Regions from separate parts of the Homo sapiens genome. Here region 1 is linked to region 2. The links come from fine-mapping of genetic effects on gene expression. A gene starts in region 2. The other region holds a variant in brackets. All regions are shown on one strand. Distances are between the middles of the regions.

What was found.
Region 1: its variant is fine-mapped to the expression of TOB1 in whole blood (TOPMed, PIP above 0.99).

What each region holds. Positions count from the first base shown.
Region 1 is chr17:50,941,378-50,949,377 of GRCh38, reverse strand. It overlaps LOC124904102, which reads left to right and starts at 4,208. Exons shown (of 2, transcript XM_047437263.1): 1 at 4,208-4,328; 2 at 4,747-5,985. The coding sequence starts at 4,208. The coding sequence ends at 5,249. LOC124904029 (a long non-coding RNA gene) reads left to right here. Exons shown (of 2, transcript XR_007065849.1): 2 at 1-325. RefSeq lists silencers at 4,557-4,616, 4,627-4,676, 4,737-4,796 and enhancers at 3,747-4,629, 4,630-5,513. The variant G/C (reference allele first, on the strand shown) is at 4,496.
Region 2 is chr17:50,862,851-50,877,778 of GRCh38, reverse strand. TOB1 (transducer of ERBB2, 1) reads left to right here and starts at 11,425. Exons shown (of 2, transcript NM_005749.4): 1 at 11,425-11,721; 2 at 13,616-14,928. The coding sequence starts at 13,762. The coding sequence ends at 14,799. TOB1-AS1 (TOB1 antisense RNA 1) reads right to left here and starts at 11,100. Exons shown (of 2, transcript NR_038458.1): 1 at 10,562-11,100; 2 at 9,408-10,283. RefSeq lists silencers at 11,090-11,599, 11,610-12,219 and an enhancer at 12,760-12,809.

The DNA of each region.
Region 1 (8,000 bases), 75 kb before region 2:
GATGAGCAGAGGGTGTGTGGCATGGGGAACTGGCCCCTAGGCCCTTCTCAGAATTCCCAGTACAGTTACGTGAATGTTCCTTCTGCTCAGGTTTCCTGGGGATGCCTAGGCTGGGGCCTCAGGGGCTGAGTCTGGGCAAGAACCCAGCCCCTCCTCCCCCCGGGAGAAGCTTCCAGCTGTTTAGATTCATCCCTCAATTAAAAAACATTGCCCCCCTGTGCCAGGTTTCACCCAGAGCCACGTACAAGCTAGCCCAGTGGGTCTCAGCCTTTCGGATTTCTCACATCACTAACATTTCAAAAAAATAAAAAAATTTAGGATCTGACGTCGTCACCAGTTTTGTTTTTGCGACAGAGCCTCGCTGTGTCACCCAGGCTGGAGCGCAGTGGTGCCATCTCAGCTCACTGCAACCCCCGCCTCCTAGGTTTAAGCGACTCCTGTGCCTCAGCTTCTCGAGTAGCTGGAATTACAGGCGTCCGCCACCATACCCAGCTAATTTCTGTATTTTTAGTAGAGATGGGGTTTCACCATGTTGGCCAGGCTGGTCTCAGACTACTGGCCTTAAGCGATCTGTCCACCTCGGCCTCCCAAAGTGCTGGGATTTCAGGCATGAGCCACCACACCAGCTAGTCACCAGTTTTTTTATTTTGCTGAGTTTGAGGTCATTAAAAGGAAATGTCAAAGGAAAGGTCCTTTTGTGCTCACACACACAGACACACACAGACACAGACACACACACACAGACACACACACGATTGAAAATACAAAGCTCAGATAAAAGGACAGTCTTTTGGATTGAGTAAACCTAGCTTTAGTAAAACCTCACTATATTGTCCTTATTTTTCTCATTTTGCTGCTGGCAGATGAGAACATGGCGATGGCTGGCACTGGGCACCGGCTGAGGGACTTGTGCTCCAGGAACTGTTGGTCTTGCCACTCCTCCGCCTGGGCCCAGTGCCAAGGGCAGCCAGCTCTGCTCCGGGGAACCCCTCCCCAGCACGTATCTCCCAATCTCTCATGCACCGGTCACTGCCACTTTTGCTTCTATCTTCCTGTCCTCCATGCCCCTCCCCCAATATTTGCAGGAGGGGGAAGGTGGGGAGCAGGCTTCACACAGCTCCCAGACTAAAGATGGCACCGCTAGCCGATCACTGCAGCCCAGAGTCCACCCATGGGGAAGTCACACGTCGCCCGCTCCTTGGAGGGGGTCTCTGCTGTGGAAGGTGCTGGTCTGGGCAGGGTCAAGAATTCCAGAGTGGCCACCGCTTCCTGGCCATGGGATCTGAGATGAGTCCCAGAACCTCCTTCCTTGAGCTTCAGCTTCTTGTTCTATAAAATGGGCATATTAACTCCTCATCACAGGGCTGGTGCAAGGGTGGTGTGAGTGACAGAATGTTTGTGAAAGTCCTTGCTGAGCTATAAAGCTTAGGTAGGGGTAGTTATTATTACGATGGGAAACTAGTAAATGGCTGAAGAAAGAGCAGCCCAAAAGCTGACCTCAGCCTCTGGGTACGAAGACAGTGCTCACACCCACCCCCAGGTCTGTGATCTGGGGCCCCTCCAGCCCCACAGAGGAGCAACGCCAGCCTGACCCCATGAGTCAGCAATGCCAGGGCTGGACCACGGCATTCTGGAAGTCGGAACTAGGCCTAGTCTGTGTTGGAGACAGGGTCTGCTGTGTTTTTGGAGAGAGGGTCTGCTTCTGTTGACTTGTAGTGGCCCCACTATGTGGTTATTGCAGCCGACGGCCCCTCAAATTGTAGAGAAGTGTGCGAAGGGCCTCCCCAAGGCGGAGCCCCTTTTGGATGGATGGAGGTTTGAGGATTCAAGGTGTTCGCGGAGGATCGGATTTTAAGGGCTGTCCCCGCCCCCGCTGTGTCACTGTGGGGCAGTGTGGGAAACACGCCCACCCATGTTCCTAGTCCAGTTCACCATTCACTCTAGCTGTGTGGCTGCCTCTCCCAGCCTCAGTTTCCTCATCTGTCAAATAGGGACAAGAGGCCTTACCTTCCAGGGCTGTTGTTAGCTTATTGGGACCCCATGCAACAGTCCCTGGAGGGTTTTCAGTCCAAGGGAGCCCCCTGCAGACCCTCCAGGAGGTCCTCCCCACAAAGGGAATCCAGCGGTCCTGAGGAAGCATGAGCCTGGGCTGCCTCCCCACCCAGAGTGGATCCCCCACCCAGCCGGCCTCCAGCGCCCTGCCCCCTCTCCCCACCTGCTCAGTAGTCTGGTCATGAAGTCATTGCCACCTTCCCCAGCCTGCACCCCCACCACCCCTGCCCCCATGCTGACATCCCATTTGGCAAAGAGGTTGGAAAAGCCGCTGACTCTTCCAGACCCTGAGTTCATTGACTGGTCAGGGCGCATCGGCCACAGGCTGACCATGTGGCCAGAGGGGGGTTTGCAGAGTGAGGGAGTGGCCCCTCCAGGCCTTCCTCCCCTGCCTCAAGCCTCCCCCTGACCACTAAGACACTCCTCCAATATCCGCCCACACCCCAACTATACATACCTGACCTACACACATGTGGCCCACCCCCTACACACTTGCTGCAGACACTCCTTACACCCCTCGTAAACACATGCCAAGCACACACTCCCCTGGGCAGCCACCTACCTACTGAGGCACACCCAGCACACCAGACTCCCACACATATGTGTATGTGCCACTCCCTCATACGCTGGTGTGAGCTGTTGGGCACCACCAGCTACCCACGGCCACAGCTACTCCTGGTCCACCATGGCCCAGCCTCTTGGGCTGCATCAGGCAGATGCACCTGGCCTGAGCCAGGCTCTGGTGGGAGGGTCTCTGGCCTGGGGGGGGTCTCTAGATCAGAGGCACAGGCGGCCAGACTTGAAACGCCTCATCTCAGCCAACCCCTTCACTGCTCATTTGTGGAAACTGAGGCCCAGAGAAGGCAAGGAGTGGTCAGGGGCTGGTCACGTCACACAGGCAAACTCCTCCCAAGCGCCTCCAAGTGTCTGAGAGCGTGGCAGAAAGGCGGGCAGCCCAGGCTCCCTCCGCCCTCAATGCGCTCCTCAAATGTCCTGACTCAGTGGGTCCTCTTCCATGAGTTCTTCCAGGATGACGCCCAAGACTGGGTGAGCTTTTCACCCTCTGCCCTGGGTGCAAGGTCATTTGAAGCTAGGCAGGGGGCACACCCACTGTTGGGCCTCAGCCTTCACAGGCTCAGGATGTTAGTGTCTCACATAGCCTTGGCCTTGCTCAGCAAATACCCAGCGCAGGCTGCAGTCCCACAATGCACTACAAGCCTGGCCCTCCCACTCCCTGCCTCAGTCTCCCTCCCTAAGACTCACCCATCAGGGCCCTCAGCAACTGCCTAGACTGTGGCTCCATCATGGGGCCCTAGGCTCCAGGGAAGGACTCTCTTTCCCTTGGACTGTCAGCTCCACAGGATAAGGATTTTTGCCTGGAAAGGTGCCTGGCACCTAGTAGGTGCCTTAAAAAAAAGCTGTTGAGGCTGGGCAACGTGGCTTATGCCTGTAATCCTAGCACTTTGGGAGGCCAAGGTGGATGGATCACAAGGTCAGGAGTTCGAGACCAGCCTGGCCAATATGGTGAAACCCCATCTCTACTAAAAATACAAAAATTAGCCAGGCATGGTGGTGGGCACCTGTAGTCCCAGCTACTCAGGAGGCTGAGGCAGCAGAATTGCTTGAACCCAGGAGGCGGAGGTTGCAGTGAGCTGAGATCACACCACTGCACTCCAGTCTGGGCGACAGAGCAAGACTCCGACTCAAAAAAAAAAAAAAGTTTTGAATGGTCCTGGCGTGCAGTGGCTCATGCCTGTAATCCCAACATTTTGGGAGGCCAAGGCAGGAGGATCGCTTGAGGCCAGAAGTTCAAGACCAGCTTGGGCAACATAGCAAGACCTCTACAAAAATGTTTACAATTAGCTGGGCATGGTGGCACATACCTGCAGTCCTAGCTACTCAGGCTGAGGCAGGAGGCTCACTTGAGCCTGGGAGTTTGAGGCTGCAGTGAGCTTTGATCCCACCACTGCACTCCAGCCTGGGTTGACAGAGCAAGACCCTGTCTCAAAAATAAATACATAAAATAAAAATGTGTTGAATGAATGGGCCAATCTTGCGACCCCAGCCTCCTTTCATGAGGCTTCTCCAGACCAGAATCAAGAGTTCTGGGAGCCGTTGGGAAAAACCATCAGGCAGGAGCCGGGGTCTGCCGTGGATGGCTGTGGGACCCCGACGCAACCACCTTCCCCTATGGCCTTCAGCTGCCATCGAGCAACGACGGCCTGGCTGTTGGAGGATGCGGTTTGCAGCCTGTGATTCTGGGACCACCTGTGCAGGTGCTGCCCCAACCAGGGCTGGCTGGCCCCCACTGGCTTGGGAGAGGGCACCCCTTTGGGCAGACACGGGCTGGGGAGCCCTATATTGTAAATAAGGCGGTCACTCAGAATAGACCAGGACATTGGCAACTCGGGAAGCCATCAAACACGAGTAGCTCCTGCTCCCC[G/C]CTTCCCCCCCACCCGCACTCCACCGCCCGCCACTCACATGTGGCGGGGCCGCCGCAGGAGCGCAGGGAGGCTCCGGGTCAACATCCTGCTTCCTGCAGGGCCTCCCGCGGGGCGGGCGGGGGAGGGCGCACAGAGGGGTGTTTGTTCGCAGCGGGCGGCGGGGAGGAGATAGATGCTAATCGCTGCGGATCGCCCGCCCCAGCTTAAGGTCAGGAGGTAACGCGACCCGCGGTTATAAATAACCGCTCAGGGCGGCGGCCGAGGGCAGCGCGCTGGACCCGCGCCCCTCGCCAGCCGCCGGGCCGGCTTGATTACTGCCCTCCCCGGCCCGACCGCGGGCACCTGAACGCCGACAGCAGAGCACGGCGACCTCTGGGGCTAGCGCGCAAGGTCAGACCAGGTCCAGGGCTTCCCTGCCCTCTGCGGGGACCCTGGAGCACCGACAGCCCCACCTCCCCACCTCCAAGCCCCACTCCCATCTCCCACCAGGGGCAAGAAGGTGGAGGGAGGCCAGCGGACACAACCCGAGGACCCAGGCGGCCTGCGCCTCCGCGCCAAGCCTGGGGGTGGCCGATGGCAAGGGAGGCCCGGAGTAACCCAGCCAGTGAGGGCCAGGCTGCAGCTAACACTGATCCTGCTTCTGGGGCCGACACAGGCCTGGTCTGTGATGGTGGGACTTACCAGAGCTTAGTGGAAAGAAAATCCCTGAGTCTGGGGCTTCAGGAGTCTCAGGCTGGGGAGGGACTCTGGTAGCACCCATGAGGGGACACGTGGTTGTGCCCCAGGGAGGCCAGCCACCTGCTCTCCACTTGCCCTTGGATAGAAAAGGGAGGTGGATTTAACCTGCTCCAGGAGACATGACTTTTATTTTTAAGACTTTTTAAAATTGAAGTTAAGCACACACACAGAACACTGCACAAATCAAAGTGTACAACTGAAAGAATTTGCACATGCTTTGCATACCTGTGCAACCAGCACCCAAATTAAAAAACAGCACCTCACCGGCACCCAGAAGCCCCTCGAGACCCCTTCCACCTACTGTTCCCGAGTCCAGCCTCTCTCCTGACTCAGCCCGCAGGCGCTCTGGCCTGCTTCTGAACTGTGTGTAGATGGAGCCATACAGTGGGTGCCGTTTTGCGTCTGGTTTCTTTTGCTGCATATTATGTTTGTGAGGTTTGTCAGTACTCTCACAGGCAGTCAAGGGCTGTTCGTACCCATTGCTGGTGGCTTGCCATTGTGTGGCTCTGTTAAAATGTATTCACCCATGTTACTGCTAATGGACATTTGGGGAGGTTCCAGTTCCTGGCTATGGTGAATAGTGCCACTATGAACATTCTAGTTCCTGTGTATTGTGAACATATGAATGCATTTCTGTTGGGTGAATACCCAGGGCAGGGATGACGGGGCCCGGCTGTGTGTCTGCTCAGCTTTGGAAGATACAGGAATGTTACTTTTTAATCATTTCAGTAAGAATGATTTTTCAAGGTAAGTTTTTGTTTTCCATTCTATTTAAAAACAAAAAATGATAGTGGCTCATGCCTGTAATCGCAGCACTTCGGGAGGCCGAGGTGGGCGGATCACTTGAAGCCAGGAGTTCAAGACCAGCCTGACCAACATGGTGAAACCCTCTCTCCACAAAAATACAAAAATTGGCCGGATATGGTGGGCACCTGTAATCCCAGCTACTTGGGAGGCCGAGGCACGAGAATCGCTTGAACCTGGGAGGTAGAGGTTGCAGTAAGCCAAGATCACGCCATTGCTCTCCAGCCTGGGGGATAGAGCGAGACTCTATATCAAAAAAGAAAGAAAGAAAGAAAGAAAAATTAGCCAGGTGTGGTGATGCAATCTGTGGTCTCAGCTACTTTGAGGCTGAGGTAGGAGGATCACTTGAAGCTGGGAGGTTGAGGTTGAAGTCAGCCATTGCACCACTGCACTCCAGCCTGGGTGACAAAGTTTGCCCCCTGTCTCCAAAAAAAAAAAAAAAAGATGGACATTATTTACAGCTGCTGTTTAGAGTGACCCATTCAACCATTCAACAGATAAGAGCCTAAGAGCCTCTTCCCTGGCAGATACTGGACAAGAGAGAGACCCAGTTCTTCTAGAGCCTGGGGACAAGTGGCGACAGCAGGGGCGTCACTGAGGGAAGGACCAGGGAGTCTCAGCACACCCCGTGATCCTCATCAGCCACCCCTTACCCACCGCAGCTGCTCCTCACCCACAAACATCCAAACTGAGACCCAGAGGACTTCCCATGCAACCGGGACTCAGGGCAGAGGCTAAGGCCTCCGTCCAGGCAGGCTGCACACGGGAACTCGAAATGGGCAGTCTGGATGGCAGTAACACAATGCATCACAATCAAGTAAGAAGAGGGCTGAGAGAGGAGGAGCAGGTGCTGTGGGCACAAGGGGCTGGCGGCAGGTATGTGGCTGAGTCAGACAGGAGGCTCAGCAGGAGGAGCCCAGGAGGGAGCAGGAGCGTGGAGACAGGGTAGGGGCAGATGGCTCTGGACTCTGGACCTAATCCTGAGGGCCAATGAAGGGGGTTAAGCCTGGGAGTGAGCAGATCAGACGTGCTTTTTTAGCAAGATCATTCTGGATCTCTGTGGAAACTGCCTTGTGGTGATGAGAGCAAACCCTGAGACCACTGGGGTCCCTGAGCTGATAAGCACCAAGGCAGTGGGCCGGAGAGAGGAGAGATGTTTAAGAGGTGTCCTGGGTTGGGTGCGGTGGCTCACGCCTGTAATCCCAGCACTTTGGGAGGCCGAGGCAGGTGGAACATTTGAGGCCAGGAGTTCAAGACCAGCCTGGCCGATATGGCAAAACCTCATCTCTACTAAAATACAAAAATTAGCTGAGTGTGGTGGTGGGCACCTGTAATCCCAGCTACTTGGGAGTCTGAGGCATGAGAATCGCTTGAACCTGGGAGATGGATGTTGCAGTGAGCCGAGATCATGCCATTGCACTCCAGCCTGGCAACAGACCAACACTCTATCTCAAAAATTAAAAAATAAAAATAAAAGAGGTGTCCTGGAAGGACCTGGGGCATAGCAGGCTCTGGGGAATGGGGGAAGAGGAGGCATCAGGAAGGTGTGAGGAATGGATTGGGGAAGACATGGTAAAATTACAGATTTGGGAGAAAGGAGTCATTCGCTCGCAGAGGTTTTGGTGAATTTCCTTCCCATGTTCCCATGTTTCTTTTTTTTTTCTTTTTTAAGACAGAGTCTCACTCTGTCACTGAGGCTGGAGTGCAATGGCACGATCTCGGCTCACTGCAACCTCTGCCTCCCGGGTTCAAGTGATTGTCCTGCCTCAGCCTCCCGAGTAGCTGGGATTACAGGTGCACGTTACCACGCTTAGCTAATTTTTTGTATTTTAAGTACAGACAGGGTTTCACCATGTTGGCCAGGCTGGTCTCGAACTCCTGGCCTCAAGTGATCCGCCCACCTTGGCCTCCCAAAGTGCTAAGATTACAGGCGTGGGCCACTGCGCCCGGTGTCCTTCCCAT
Region 2 (14,928 bases):
GTGGTAGCAAACTGAGGTTAGGAGTTCGACACCAGCCTGGCCAACATGGTGAAACCCCGTCTCTTCTAAATATACAAAAATTAGCTGGGCGTGGTGGCAGGAACCTGTAATCCCAGCCACTAGGGAGGCTGAGGCAGGAGAATCCCTTGAACCTGGGAGGCGGAGGTTGCAGTAAGCTGAGATCATACCACTGCACTCCAGCCTGGTTGAGGACAGAGTAAGACTCCATCTCAAAAAAAATAAAATAAAATAAGGCCAGGCGCAGTGGCTCTCACCTGTAATCCGAGCACTTTGGGAGGCCAAGGCAGGTGGATCGCCTGAGATCGGGAGTTCAAGACCAGCCTGACCAACATGGCAAAACCCTATCTCTACTAAAAATACAAAATTAGCTGGGGTGGTGGCACGCGACTATAATCCCAGCTACTCAGGAGGCTGAGGCAGGAGAATCGCTTGAACCCGGGAGGCGGAGGTTGCAGTGAGCTGAGATAGCACGATTGCACTCCAGCCTGGGCGACAGAGCGAAATAAATAAATAAATAAATAAATAAATAAATAAATAAATAAAAATAAAAAATAAAGTGGTAGCGCAAAGCCCTTTGCCTTGGGCTCTGCTTGTTTAGGAACCTATGCTAAGACAGCCTGTAGCTGAAAGTCCAGGTAAAGTTGATTCAAGGGCTGCTCAAAAGGCTGTTTCCAGGACTTGGTTTTTCTTGGTTTTACCTGGGTTAGCTACATTCTCTGACAGGCTCTCTCCTTTTGGTACTAAGATGGCCCTGGGAGCCTCAACAATGAATACTTCCAGGTTCATATTTCATGGGAAAGAGTCCTTATCCCAAGACCTCAGACAGAAGTCCCAGAATTGAGTTATTGGCTCTGATCAGCCATCCCTAAACCCATCACAGTAGTTAGGAGAATGTGATGCTTTCGCTGGCTTTTGCCTTGTCAAGAGTCTCACTGGAAGCTCCTGGATGAAGGGTGGGAGAGGTATAGGTTCTCACACAAAAATCGCAAGTCTCACTAGAAGCTCCTGGATGAAGGGTGGGAGAGGTATAGGTTCTCACACAAAAATCGCAACTGTTGCTGGAAGAAAGGGGAACAGATGTTGTCTAGGCTAACAACAAGGAAAGGTGGAAGTAATCAACCCTCCTGGTACCACAGTAGAATTTTCTACAGAAAGGTTTTAGTTTTTTCAGAAACCGTAAGTTTTTTTTACTTAATACCTTGCCACATAATCTTTTATTTTTTCTTTTCTTTTCTTTTTCTTTTTTTTTTTTTTTGTGACAGAGTCTCGTTCTGTCACCCAGGCTGTAGTGCAGTGGCATGATCTCGGCTCTCTGCAACCTCCATCTCCTGGGTTCAAGCAATTCTCATGCCTCAGCCTCCCAAGTAGCTGGAACTACAGGCACGCACCACAACAGCTGGCTACTTTTTGTATTTTTAGTAGAGATGGGATTTTACCATCTTGGCCAGGCTGGTCTCAAACTCCTGGCCTCAAGTGATTCATCCACCTCAGGCTCCCAAATTGTTGGGATGACAGGCCTGAGCCACCGCGCCCGGCCAAAACTTTTCCTTTTGTTCCCAAGTGGATAGAAGTATTGGTCTCCAGGTGGGGTCTGTATCTTCCTTAAAAGACAGTAAGTATTTCTTCTTCAGAACAACCAAACAATTGAAGAATATTCCATTGGGTGATAAAACTACGTCTAGCAATTGAACACACATTGGCAGGGCAATTCCTAAGTATCAAGTAATGTACTATGCTCTGGGGCATTTAGAGATAAATAAAATGTGCTCCAAACAGAATTCCAATAATGTCATTTCCCAACTGAAAAATCACCCAACATCTTCCCGTCTGTTAAAGGCAAAATTCCAGATTTCCTCCCTTGGTAATCTGGCCTCTGCCTACCAACCAGCCTCCTCTCTAGATTCTCACCTCTGAACCATCCACAGCAGCCACTCTGAGCCACTTACCCTTCCTCAAATATTCTGTGTTCTTTCATTGGATTAAGCAGCGACCTAGCAAAGCCATCAGTCAATACTGATTGACTGCAAGGCACTATAAAGCTCGTGTAAAGGTACATGCTTTCTGCTCTTAAAAAGCTTGGAATCCAACAAAGGCTAGGACATAAACACACGGAAGGCTAAATAAACTAATAATTAAATAATAATATAAAACATCAAGCCATGGGATTCTGAGAGGTTTTTTGAAGGTGAAAAGGACTGAGTTGGCAACACTGTATCTGACAGAAGAGAGTGTTAATAATACTTGTTTGTAGTTTAAAAGCAATTTCACATGTATTTTTACTTGAGCTGAATCAAATGGTACTTGAATTTCTGCCAGATGTAAGAAGCAGAGAAGGAAGAGAAGGAGGAGAGGAGGAGGAGAAAGTAGGGAAGGAGGGGAAGAGGGAGGGGGAGAGGAAGGAAGAAAATATTCACATTTATGGGGGGCTTGACGGTTCATAGAGCGTTTTCACAGGTGTCACCTCAATTGATTCTCACACAACTCTGAGGGTAATTATTGCTTCTAATTATTTATAAGATGAGGGCTGAGACTCAGAGTAGCCATACCCAACTAATACCAGGTGGCAAGACCCAAACACAAATTCTCTAATTTTGAATTCATAATTTTTCTTCTCTGCTCCACTGCAGCTGAGATAGGAAGTGGGGGCCATGTTAGGATATCCAATGTTAATACAATGGGCAAAGTCTTAAAAGTCAAAAGGAAATATTTGAAGTAGTTATTAGTAAACAGTGTGAAATGTGACAGAAAGGTCAAGAAGACAGAGGCCTAAGTAAAAATGATTAGAACTGTTTTTGTTTGTTTGTTTGTTTTTGAGAAAAGGTCTTGCTCTGTCACCCAGGCTGGAGTGCTATGGAATGATCACTTGCCGCTTGGAACTCCTGGGCTCAAGGGATACTCCCACCTCAAACCTCCTTAGTAGCTGGGACTACGGGTGCTTGCCACTACACCCTACTAATATTTTTATTTTTTTTGTAGAGACAGGGGTCTCGCTATGTTGCCCAGGCTGGTCTCAACCTCATGGCCTCAAATGATCCTCTCTCCCATCTCAGCCTCCCAAAGTGCTAGGCTTATAGGTACCACTGTACCTGGCTTGCTTTTTTTTTTTTTTTAAGCATTTATGGATAACCCAGGAGTTAGTCAGGACCTTATAAAGTGAAACAGTAGATTGAAAAGCAAGGTTCTAGGCATCAAAATCACATGTTTAAAATGTTTGGGCAAGTTCTAGAGTGAGGTTTATGACCAGGATCCTCTTCAGCCACGTATCTGTACACAATATGCAAGATACTCATACAAATTGAAGCAAAACACAAAGACCTCTAAGAGAAACATGGAGAAAAGGCATAGATAAAAAATTTATAAAAACAGTAGTACAACGAGCTGACAAACATGTCAAACTCTATTCATCCTACATGTAATCAAAGAAATAAAAATTAAACAACAGATATCATTTTACCTACCAAATTAGCCAAGGATAGAAAAAAATTTTTTAGTAGGCAACGCTGGCTAAAAATGTAGTGATTTTGCAGTGCGTATCCTCTGGGAAGGTAAAAAAGTACAATCTCTCTGGAAGGTGGATTGTCATTATGTTACCAGCCTTAAAAAATATTCCTTCTCTTCCACTCGCTAAGTTTGCTTATAGAATCTAGCTCAGGGAAATAGAGAGGTAGCTAAAGATTTACATATAAAAATGCCTGTTAAATATGTTTGTTTTTAATACAGAAACATTTTCAACAACTTAGATGCCCAGCGATGGTTAAATAAATTATTCTAAATCCATAGAGTAGAATATAATATGCAGTCATTAAAAATGATGATTGTGACAAATGCTTAATGTCAGGAGAAAATAGGAAAAATGTAATGTTAAGTGAACTGCAGGATAGAAAATTGCGTGTGTGATAGAAACTCATTCAGAAAGAAATGGAGCAAGATGGTTAGCACTGCATGGAGAGATTAAAGATGATTGCTATTTTCTTCTTTATTTCTATGTGTTCCAAATTTGCTATAATGAGCATTTCCAGGTTTTATAATGAGAAAGAAGCCCTGATATTTTAGATTAGAGGAAAAATTTATTTTGGCTTTTTTGAAAATCAAGTTCAGGTTTCCTTAAAAGATGTAAAATTAGTGTTTTTGCTGGAAATACTTCAGCTGCAAGTCATGGAACACTTAATGTCGGTTAAAAAGTGGACCAGACCTAGGCAGTGACTAGCATTGGTGAGAACCCCTGTCCCTGTGATTAACTTGCGTTTTATTCATGGTTTATTCAGTAGGAGCTGCTGCAGCTCCTGCCATGAGATCCATGTTCAAGGCAGGAAGAAGAGAGAAGTGACCCAGTGGTGATTTTTAAAAATGGCCTCAAATTCTTTGACACTCCTCCATGAGAGGTGGTGGTTATGTCCCCTCCCCTTGAATCTGGCTGGTGGTTACTTTGACCATTAGGGTGTAATGGAAGTGGTGCATTGTGACTTATGAGACTGGGTCATAAAAGGCCATGCAGCTTCCTTGGTGGCAGCTTCCATGGTGGCAGCTTCCATGGTGGCCAGGCATGGTAGCTCATGCCTGTAATCCCACTGCTTTGGGAGGCCAAGGCAGGAGGATTGTTTGAGGCCAGGAGTTTGAGACCAGCCTGGGCAACACAGCAAGACCCTATCTCTAGAAAAAACTTGAAAAAAATGGTTTTAATTTTTAAAAAGTTCACTCTCCAGAAACTGCTCTGCTTCCTCTCAACTGCCACGCTGTAAGAAGCCCAAACCACAGGGGAAATTCAGAGGCCATGTGGAAACGCTCCAAACAACAGTGCCAACTAAGCCCAGCCCTTGAGTCACTGCAGCCCAGGTGCTAGACATGTGCTTTGAAAAAGCTTCCAGGTCCATGCTGTCCAATTCAGAAGCTGCTGTCCACATGTGATTATTTAAATCTAAATTTCATTAAAACTAAATTAAAGTAAAAATTCAGTTCCTCAGTCACACTGGCCACATTTCAAGTGCTCAAGAGCCGCATGTGGCTATTATATTTGACAGCACGGATATGGCATATTCCCATCACTGGAGGAAGTTCTGTTAGACCTGCTTCAGATGATACTTGAGCATTTGAGCCTTTCCAGCTGAGGTTCCAGACACTATGGAGCAGTGATAAGCTATCCATCCCCTTGTGCCCTGTCTGAATTTTTTTTTTTTTTTAAGACGGAATCTCTCTCTGTCACCCAGGCTGGAGTGCAGTGATGCTATCTTGGCTCACTGCAACCTTTGCCTCCTGGGTTCAAGTCATTCTCCTGCCTCAGCTTCCTGAGTAGCTGGGATTACAGGCACAAACCACCATGCCTGGCTAATTTTTTTGTATTTTTAGTAGAGAGGGGGTTTTGCTATGTTGGCCAGGCTGGTCTCGAACTCCTAACCTCAAGTGGTCCGCCCTCCTTGGCCTCCCAAAGTGCTGGGATTACAGGTGTGAGCCACCAGGCCAAGCCTGAATTTCTTACCTACAGGATCCAAGGGTATAATAAAATTGACCTTTTGTGCCACAGTAAATGCGTGTTTTGGATAGTTTTTCATGCAGCAATAGTAACTAGAACAAACCTCTCTGATAGGAAAAGCATAGCACCCTCAGAAACCATCCCAGCTGACTTCTGTTTACATCTTATCTGCAGAACAGTGTCACAGTGCCACCTCTACTGCAATGAAGCCTGGGAAAACATGCATTTAGCTCTTCTAGCCTCTTTAGTCAGGAAGAAAAGGGAATGAGGATGGGGCATGGGAAACGGGTGAGCTGGCAACAGTGTCTGCCACAATTGGTTATATATATAAAATCACATTCTATTTTAGTAAGCAGAGCTGCATAATAACATATGCAACCCATGCTTTAAATGTATTTAAAGTACTCTAATAACATTTGCTCTCAGAGTACTTTATATAAATGTTCTTTGTACTTAGAATGTCATGAACACCGTATCACTCCTAGAACCCGCACTATAATCTCTTTACTGAAATCAAAATCTTCCTCCTCGGCTAATGGAAAGAAATTGCAAGATTTGGTTTGGATTTTGTTCATCAAGATAATAGAAAGTGAGCAAATTATAAGGAAACATTCTCCTATCAGACCACGTTGCTTTAGTAGGCTTGTTCAACATTATCTAGTTATCTTTTAATTACAAATGTCTGTGTGCCAGTGTCTTCTGGAGACTATATAGCCCTCCACTACAAACCCATGTGAAAAGCCACAGGAAACCACACTGAGGTTTCCTCAGACGTAACTGGATTGCCTTTTTTTGAGAAATGTTTAGAAGAGAACTGGTTTACTTGGTTTTCAATAACTCAATGACTAGAGCATGATTTAAAAAATTAATTTTAGGCCAGGCATAGTGGCTCACGCCTGTAATCCCTGCAGTTCAAGACCAGCCTGGCCAACACGGTGAAACCCTGTCTCTACAAAAATACAAAAATTAGCTGGGCATGATAGCGGGTGCCTGTAATCCCAGCTACTCGGGAGGCTGAGGTGGAAGAATCACTTGAACCCGGGAGGCTGCAGTGAGCTGCACTCCAGCCTGGGCGCAGAGCGAGACTCTGTCTCAAAAAAAATTAATAATAATTTTAAAATGTGTGTGCTATGATTTATGTTGCATGACCGTTTAAAAAGAAATAAATAAAAATCACAATAAGAACATTATGGGGTTTTTTTGTTGTTGTTAGTTTGAGACAAGGCCTCCCTCTGTTGCTCAGGCTGGAGTGCAGTGGCACGATCACTGCTCACTGCAGCCTCGACCTCCTGGTCTCAAGAGATCCTCCTGCCTCGGCCTTCCAAGTAGCTGGAACTACAGGTGTGCGCCACCACGCCCGGCTAATTTTTAAAAAATAAAAGAAAATAAAATAGAAACGGCCTCGCTATGCTGTATAGGCTGGTCTCCACCTCCTTGTCTCAAGAGATTCTCCCACCTCAGCCTTCCAAGTAGCTGGGACTACAGGTGTGCATCACCACTCCCGCCTTTTTTTTTTTTTTAAATAAAATAGAGATAGGGGTCTCACTGTGTTGCATAGGCTGATCTCGAACTCCTCGGCTCAAGGGATCCTCCCGCCTCAAGCCTCCTAAAATGCTGGCATTACGAGCATGTGAGCCACCTTGCCCTGCCTGTCTTATTTTCAAATAAAGGTAAAAGGTTGATTCCTTAGAAGTGAAATGAGTCGGCCGGGTGCGGTGGCTCATGCCTGTAATCCCAACACTTTGGGAGGCCGAGGCGGGCGGATCACGAGGTCAAGAGATAGAGACCATCCTGGCCAACATGGTGAAACCCCATCTCTACTAAAAATACAAAAGTTAGCTGGGAGTGGTGGCGCATGCCTGTAGTCCCAGCTACTTGGGAGGCTGAGGCAGGAGAATCACTTGAACCCGGAAGGCAGAGGTTGCAGTGAGCCAAGACTGTGCCACTGCACTCCAGCCTGGCGACAGAGTGAGACTCTGTCTCAAAAAAAAAAAAAAAAAAAAAAAAGAAGTAAAATGAGTATTAATAATTATACACCATGTGATAGCTATTCTCCTGTAACCCTTTCTCAATTTACAAGGAAGCATATTAAGAATTAGAAAACTTAGGATGTCTCTATCTCAGAAATCAAGGTGTTGCATGTGTGTGTTCTTGTGTGGATTAGGTAATAATTCAAGGCACTTTCAAGAACTGTATTTTATGAAGATATTGGAAGTTATTTTTTACCAAACGATTACCTTTATTGTAAGGGCCCACTGGGAATTGTGTAGAATGTAGGGATGTGAAAGGCAAAGGCTGTAGTTTCTAGTGACTGTTATTTGCTCAGAGAGAGGAATACCTCTTGATTGTGATACACTTGGAGCCTAATATCAAATTCTTTTTTCCTCCATAAGTCTAATTCCCTGCACAATTAGCAGTTAGCCCTCCACTCCCCTGCACAATTCCAAAGTAAATGTTAGATAATAATAAGCCATATGCAGAACTTGGATAAAGAACATTTTATACCTCGTGACTGGCAATGTTCAGAGATGTGAATCAGTTTTCCCTTTTATTTGCAATCCATATATATGTATTTTTTTTCTTTTTTGAAACGAAGTTTTGCTCCTGTTGCCTAGGCTGGAGTGCAATGGCGCGATCCCAGCTCACCGCAACCTCCGCCTCCCGGGTTCAAGTGATTCTCCTGCCTCAGCCTCCCGAGTAGCTGGGATTACAGGCATGCGCCACCATGCCAGGCTAATTTTGTATTTTTAGTAGAGACAGGGTTTCTCCATGTTGGTCAAGCTGATCTCGAGCTCCCGACCTCAGATGATCCACCCACCTTGGCCTCCCAAAGTACTGGGATTACAGGCGAGAGCCACCGCGCCCTGACTTGCAATCTGTATTTGAAGAACAGCTGCAGTATATATGTTAGGAACATTGAGTTTTAAGGGCGGAATATTTTATTTATTTATTTTTTTGAGAGAGAGTCTCGCTCTGTCGGCCAGCAGGAGTGCAGTGGCACGATCGCGGCGCACTGCAACCTCCATCTCCCAGGCTCAAGCAATTCTCCTGCCTCAGCCTCCCAAGTAGCTGGGATTACAGGCGTGTGCCACTACACCCGGCTAATTTTTGTATTTTCAGTAGAGACGGGGTTTCACCGTGTTGGCCAGGCTGGTCTCAAATTCCTGAGCTCAGGTAATCTGCCTGCCTCAGCCTCCCAAAGTGCTGGGATTACAGGCGTAAGCCACTGCTCCCAGCCAAGTGTGGAATTTTTTTTTAATTGAAGGAGACATTAGATATGATCTAATTCAACCCTTTTTATAGGTGAGAAAACTAAAAGTTTATTGAAACTGGTGTGAAACTCAGACCTCCCAGTACCCACCCTTCATTGCTTTTTCCAGTATGCCATGGGGCCTCCGTGTGTGTTGTTTGTGTGGTGTGTGTGTGTGTGTTTATATTTGGTCAGACATCTTCTTACACTCCTAGGCCAAGCAGCAATAACTCATAAATTTTTGACATCTACATTTCTGACTTAAAAATGCTTTTAATGCTACTGATATTTAATCAGTACCTATCAGATGACTGCTCTCATATTTCAAATCTGGAATTACAGATTGAAGACATTCAGAAAAGAGAACTTGTCCCTTCTCTTTAGAGAATTATTGAAAAGTACAGATAAGTTTGACAAAATTACAATTCATCTATCTTTAGACATTTTAGTCTCAGCCATGCCTAATATGCCCCCCCAATATAAAATTACTAATCAAGACACATGGTCCCGCAGTTCTAGATGTTTGGTACAGTACCATTATTTGCCTAATGGTAAAAGAAGTTGTGCTTCTAGAACACGTGAAAAATGAAGTGTTTCTTTTGGTAAGGCATTCCAAGGATATCCTGTCTAGTTTCTTGAAATTTCTGTGCTTAATTAGAAAACTAAAAATAACTCACTTTTATTACAGATGGACTTGTCATTACAGAAAACCAAAAACAAACAAATAAAAAAAGAAAACTGAACAAATCATTTATATTTGACGCTTTGATGACATTTCAATGCAGAGGAAGGGACATTTTAATTTAAATGCTTTCACAGTTTTGCCATACTTTCACATTTCAATTCCACTCCTGTTTGCAACTAAAAAACCCAAACACTCAAAAAAAAAAAAAAATCACATTAATCAGAATTTAAGGAGTCACTTAGTAAAACTATGTTTTAGGAATCTGTACAATAAACATGAAATCAGTCACCTGACCACTCCCCACCCTCAGCCCATTCCACAAACCCATCTTCCCACCCCTTCTCCTACGCATTGAGCCTTCAGAAATACCCTTTCTCAGTGCGGTTCCTTCTAAAAAGGAGAGGCGGGAGAGTCAGGGTGGAGAAGGCGGCTCCAACCAGATTTTGCGTCCACAAAGCCAAAAGCTTCTAGGCCTGGCATGTACGGCGGGTTTGTGCCCGAGGAGCACAGCTGGTCTACACGGGCCCGCCCCGTAGACACCCTACTCCTCGGTGAGCTGCGGTTTAACTTCCTTATAGCAGGTTGAGAGTGCAGGCCCCAACGTTTGGAGGGGAAGGCGGCGCCCCAACTGGTGTTTTTCCAGGAAGTGCTCCAAGAATGGAGAGGAGAGGGGAAAGGGGAAAGGGGAAGGCCAGGCGATGGGCGTTTCATTCATTGCTTCTTTCTCCCCGTCCCCTCCTTCGCTCCCCCCAGACTTTCCCCTTTTCCCAGTCCGAGTTTGACGTCGGTCTCCTGGATACCAGGCAGCCAATCGCCTCGTTGCGAAGGGACCAGCGCAGCCAATCAGGCGTCGTTGCTACCTGTGAGTAATATTTTTAGCTGAGAGGGACGCTCGATTCCACTCCCGATGTAATTTCGTGTATTTCTCTGGGGCAGGTTGTGAAAAAGGCACTTACCCGCCCCCCACCACGAGTCCCTCTCTTACCCCACTCCCTAGGTACCCGCACATATTTCAGCCAAGAATGATCTTAAACGCGCTTTACAAGCAGGCACCGCGTTTATTCTGTGCACCTGCGATCCAGCAAGCCCTAGAAATGCACGCATGCGTGTGTGTGTAGACATGGACACAGATACATACGCAGTTTGGCCTCGTGTCGCCACACTCTGGGCACGGCGTGGGCTGGGACATTTGGAATAAACGGATCCGAGTCGCAGCCGGGGTCGCACCGGGAGGCCTGAGGCTGCGGAAGCAGTTAAACTGCCGGCGGGGCGGGAGCTGTGGCGGCCTCCCTTCCCCACCCCCAGCCCGGCTCCACGTCTTTGGGTTCTGCAGCTGCCACTCTCTGGGTGGCGGTTGGCCTAGGCCTTGGGGTGATTAATATTCAATTAATCGGGTGCACAAGTCCCGGTCACAGTTTGCCCTTTCTCTACCCCGCCCCTGGGGTGGGCTGGAGGCCGATTTGGTAGCTATTCCACGAGCAGGATCCTCCTTGGCCGCAGACCCCCGCGGAGAGGGCACTTTCTGGGTACTCTTGCCGCTCCTCCAGCCCCGGTTCTCCTGAGCCGCTTCGCCACCAGCTTCGTCCCCCTCCCCCTCTGCCCGGCGCTCTCCGCCTAAACCGGGCGTCAGCCGCCCTACCCCACCCCTTTCTCTCTCATTGGCACGTCTGCCCCCACAGTCCCTTTCCAGACGTTCTCTTCATTCCGTCCCCAGTGCTCCGATCGTCGGTTCATTGGCCCTCCTGGAGCCCGGAGGGTGCGGCTTCCCCACCCCTGCGTCCGCCGCGCGTCCGGACAGGGGCAGGCGGGACTTGGCCAATGGCGTCGGGGGGCAGGGCAGGGGCGGAGCCGGCCGGCGGGGGACCGGGGTGCCGGGCGGGGAGCGCGGGGAATGGCTGCGCCGCCGGAGCTGTGTGACGCGGAGCGGGCGCGCGCACCCCGACGGAGGGGATGGGGGCGGGGAGGAGGCCATAAAACGAGAGGCGGGGCGCGCGCCGCGGCAGAAGGAGCGAAGCTCTGGCCCGGCGTGTAGCGGGCGCACTACGGGGACGCTGGGCCGGGCACCGGGCTGTGTGGAGAAGTGAGCGCGCTCGTCTGACCCCCGTGCCCGCCACCCCGAGCCACTAACGGCGATCTCCCAAGGCCTGCCCGAGGCCTCTGTCCTCTGTCCTCAGCCCCGCAGCGGCAACGTCTTGCACTCGGCGAGCTCGCCGCTCCCGACCCTCCCGCGCCCCCGCCCTGCCGCGCTGCTCCCCGCCCAGCCGCGGGTCTGTGGTCCAAGCCGCCCCGAAGCAGCCCGTAAGTATCTCGGGGCGCCGGGCGGGGTCGGCGAGGAGACGGGAGCCCCGGGCCCAGGCGGCGGAGGAGGGGCTGCAGCGGCGTCGAGCCCTGGGCCCTCGGGAGCTCGGGGACGGCGGGGTCGCGGCCCTGGGCGCCGAGGGGGCAGCGCCAGGACCCGAGGGGAGCGGCTCCGAGGGGCCGCCGGCGCGTCGGGCTCGTCCTGGGCAGTTGGCCGGGGACGGGCGGCCCGGGGCGAGCTGACGGGAATTGGGGGGTTGGGGTGCCCGGAGGAGCGACGAGCTCGCGGTGGAACGCTGGGGTTCGAGGGGCCGGTGGCCGCGAGGCTGAAAATGGTGCCGAGGAACCGGTGCTCCCCCAGGCTCTGGCCGGCTCCCAGGAGCCCGGGGCGGGGGCCACGGGGCGGGGAGCAGCGGGTCGGGTTACGGCGGGGGAGGGGAGCGGCTGACCCGGCGCCCCGACCTGCTCGGTGCTGGGTGCCCAGCCGGGAGAGGTTGCTCTTCCATTTCCCGGGCCTTCCTCCTCCTTCTCCGAGGAGGCTCGTACTCTCTTCCTCCTCCACCTCCACCTCCTCTTGCTGTTGCTGCTGCTGTAGCGCTTGGGCTCCGAGGGCTGTGAGCAGAAATCTAATGAGATCTAACTGGCTGTTTATGTAATTCTTCACACTCCTGCCTGTCTTAAGGCGTTGCTTTGTAACTACCTTCCACCGAGCCTGAATTTCGCTCGGCTGCACCTTCAAGCAATTGGGCTTAATCAGCTGCCTCTGCCGGCACTCAGGCTTTTGACTTGGAAAGTGTTTGTAGTTTGGGGGCAGCCAGAGATTCTTTTTCCCTTTGTCACCACGAATATGGAAAATAGAACAGACGAATTAAGACCAACTTGATTTTTAAACGTACTTTTAAATCAACTTCAGTGTGCAAATAGATCCCTTTCGCAAATATCTTCTGTTTGCCCTTGATCTTTTCTTATCCCCACCCAGTGCTGATCCAGCAAACGTTTAAAGGTCGACCTTACCATACTTGCCTCTCCGGCTGTTACCGTGAGAGGGAGGGAGGGAGAGAGGGACAGACGGAGGTTTTTTAAAATCAGACTAAAACTCAGAAACCCTGGCCTTAAACAGAATAATCAATAGTTTTAATTTGTGTCTTTGCTTTTGTTATACTTGCTGCCGAATAGGTATTTTCAGATTTAGAAAAATACACATTGAAAACAAAAGGCCCAGAGAAGCTGGATTTTATTATATTGTATGCTCTTAGTATACTTAAGGCCGAAACTATATAGAATAATTTGGTTCATAATTATTTACTAGGATGAAGTTCATTTAGTACTCAGTGTCTTTAATTTTAGCATCATGTACTATGGAAATTAAAATGATCTTCCTAACGTAACCAAATTTTTAAATGTCAGTGACAGAGCAGATTTAAACAGTATATATCCAAAGTAAACTAAAACATGGATTCACTTCTAAGTTGGTGAATAACAATAAAAATTACTACCTAAAAGTGGCATCTATATATATGGGGGTGGGGGGAGGATGCTGAGTACAATAAATATTCTTGTGAGAACTGAGGAGAGAAGAATGCATGTTCTAGAGATTTTTCTTCTTAGAACTCTATTCAGAAACAGGTTTTTAAAAGCATTATTTCATTTGTAAATCTACATTTTCCTGTGTCATTTTAAACTTTAATAAACGATTTTCTATTTTATGTTTATTTTGTGCTAGTAACAGTTTTCAGGCTTTCTGTCCTAGTAGACATTTTCTTTTTCTTTTTATCCTTAGCAGACTAACACAGGATCTTAGACATTTTGAAAGGTGAAATTACTTTGGAGGGGGGAAGGTCATGGGACTTATATTACATTTATCTTATTTGGATATGTTTGCTTTTGTTTTAAGGAACAAGATCACTCAAGGTGAAGGATAATCTACTAATACCAGCACTTTGAATGAAAATTTGTTTCTCTGCCACAAACTGAACATCTTTTTTTTTTTTTTTTTTTTTTGGTGGGGGAGTTGAAACCTAATTTTGTGGCGTAGCAGCTATGCAGCTTGAAATCCAAGTAGCACTAAATTTTATTATTTCGTATTTGTACAATAAGCTTCCCAGGAGACGTGTCAACATTTTTGGTGAAGAACTTGAAAGACTTCTTAAGAAGAAATATGAAGGGCACTGGTATCCTGAAAAGCCATACAAAGGATCGGGGTTTAGATGTATACACATAGGGGAGAAAGTGGACCCAGTGATTGAACAAGCATCCAAAGAGAGTGGTTTGGACATTGATGATGTTCGTGGCAATCTGCCACAGGATCTTAGTGTTTGGATCGACCCATTTGAGGTTTCTTACCAAATTGGTGAAAAGGGACCAGTGAAGGTGCTTTACGTGGATGATAATAATGAAAATGGATGTGAGTTGGATAAGGAGATCAAAAACAGCTTTAACCCAGAGGCCCAGGTTTTTATGCCCATAAGTGACCCAGCCTCATCAGTGTCCAGCTCTCCATCGCCTCCTTTTGGTCACTCTGCTGCTGTAAGCCCTACCTTCATGCCCCGGTCCACTCAGCCTTTAACCTTTACCACTGCCACTTTTGCTGCCACCAAGTTCGGCTCTACCAAAATGAAGAATAGTGGCCGTAGCAACAAGGTTGCACGTACTTCTCCCATCAACCTCGGCTTGAATGTGAATGACCTCTTGAAGCAGAAAGCCATCTCTTCCTCAATGCACTCTCTGTATGGGCTTGGCTTGGGTAGCCAGCAGCAGCCACAGCAACAGCAGCAGCCAGCCCAGCCGCCACCGCCACCACCACCACCACAGCAGCAACAACAGCAGAAAACCTCTGCTCTTTCTCCTAATGCCAAGGAATTTATTTTTCCTAATATGCAGGGTCAAGGTAGTAGTACCAATGGAATGTTCCCAGGTGACAGCCCCCTTAACCTCAGTCCTCTCCAGTACAGTAATGCCTTTGATGTGTTTGCAGCCTATGGAGGCCTCAATGAGAAATCTTTTGTAGATGGCTTGAATTTTAGCTTAAATAACATGCAGTATTCTAACCAGCAATTCCAGCCTGTTATGGCTAACTAAAAAAAAGAAAATGTATCGTACAAGTTAAAATGCACGGGCCCAAGGGGGATTTTTTTTTTCACCTCCTTGAGAATTTTTTTTTTTAAGCTTATAGTAAGGATACATTCAAGCTTGGTTAAAAAAATAATA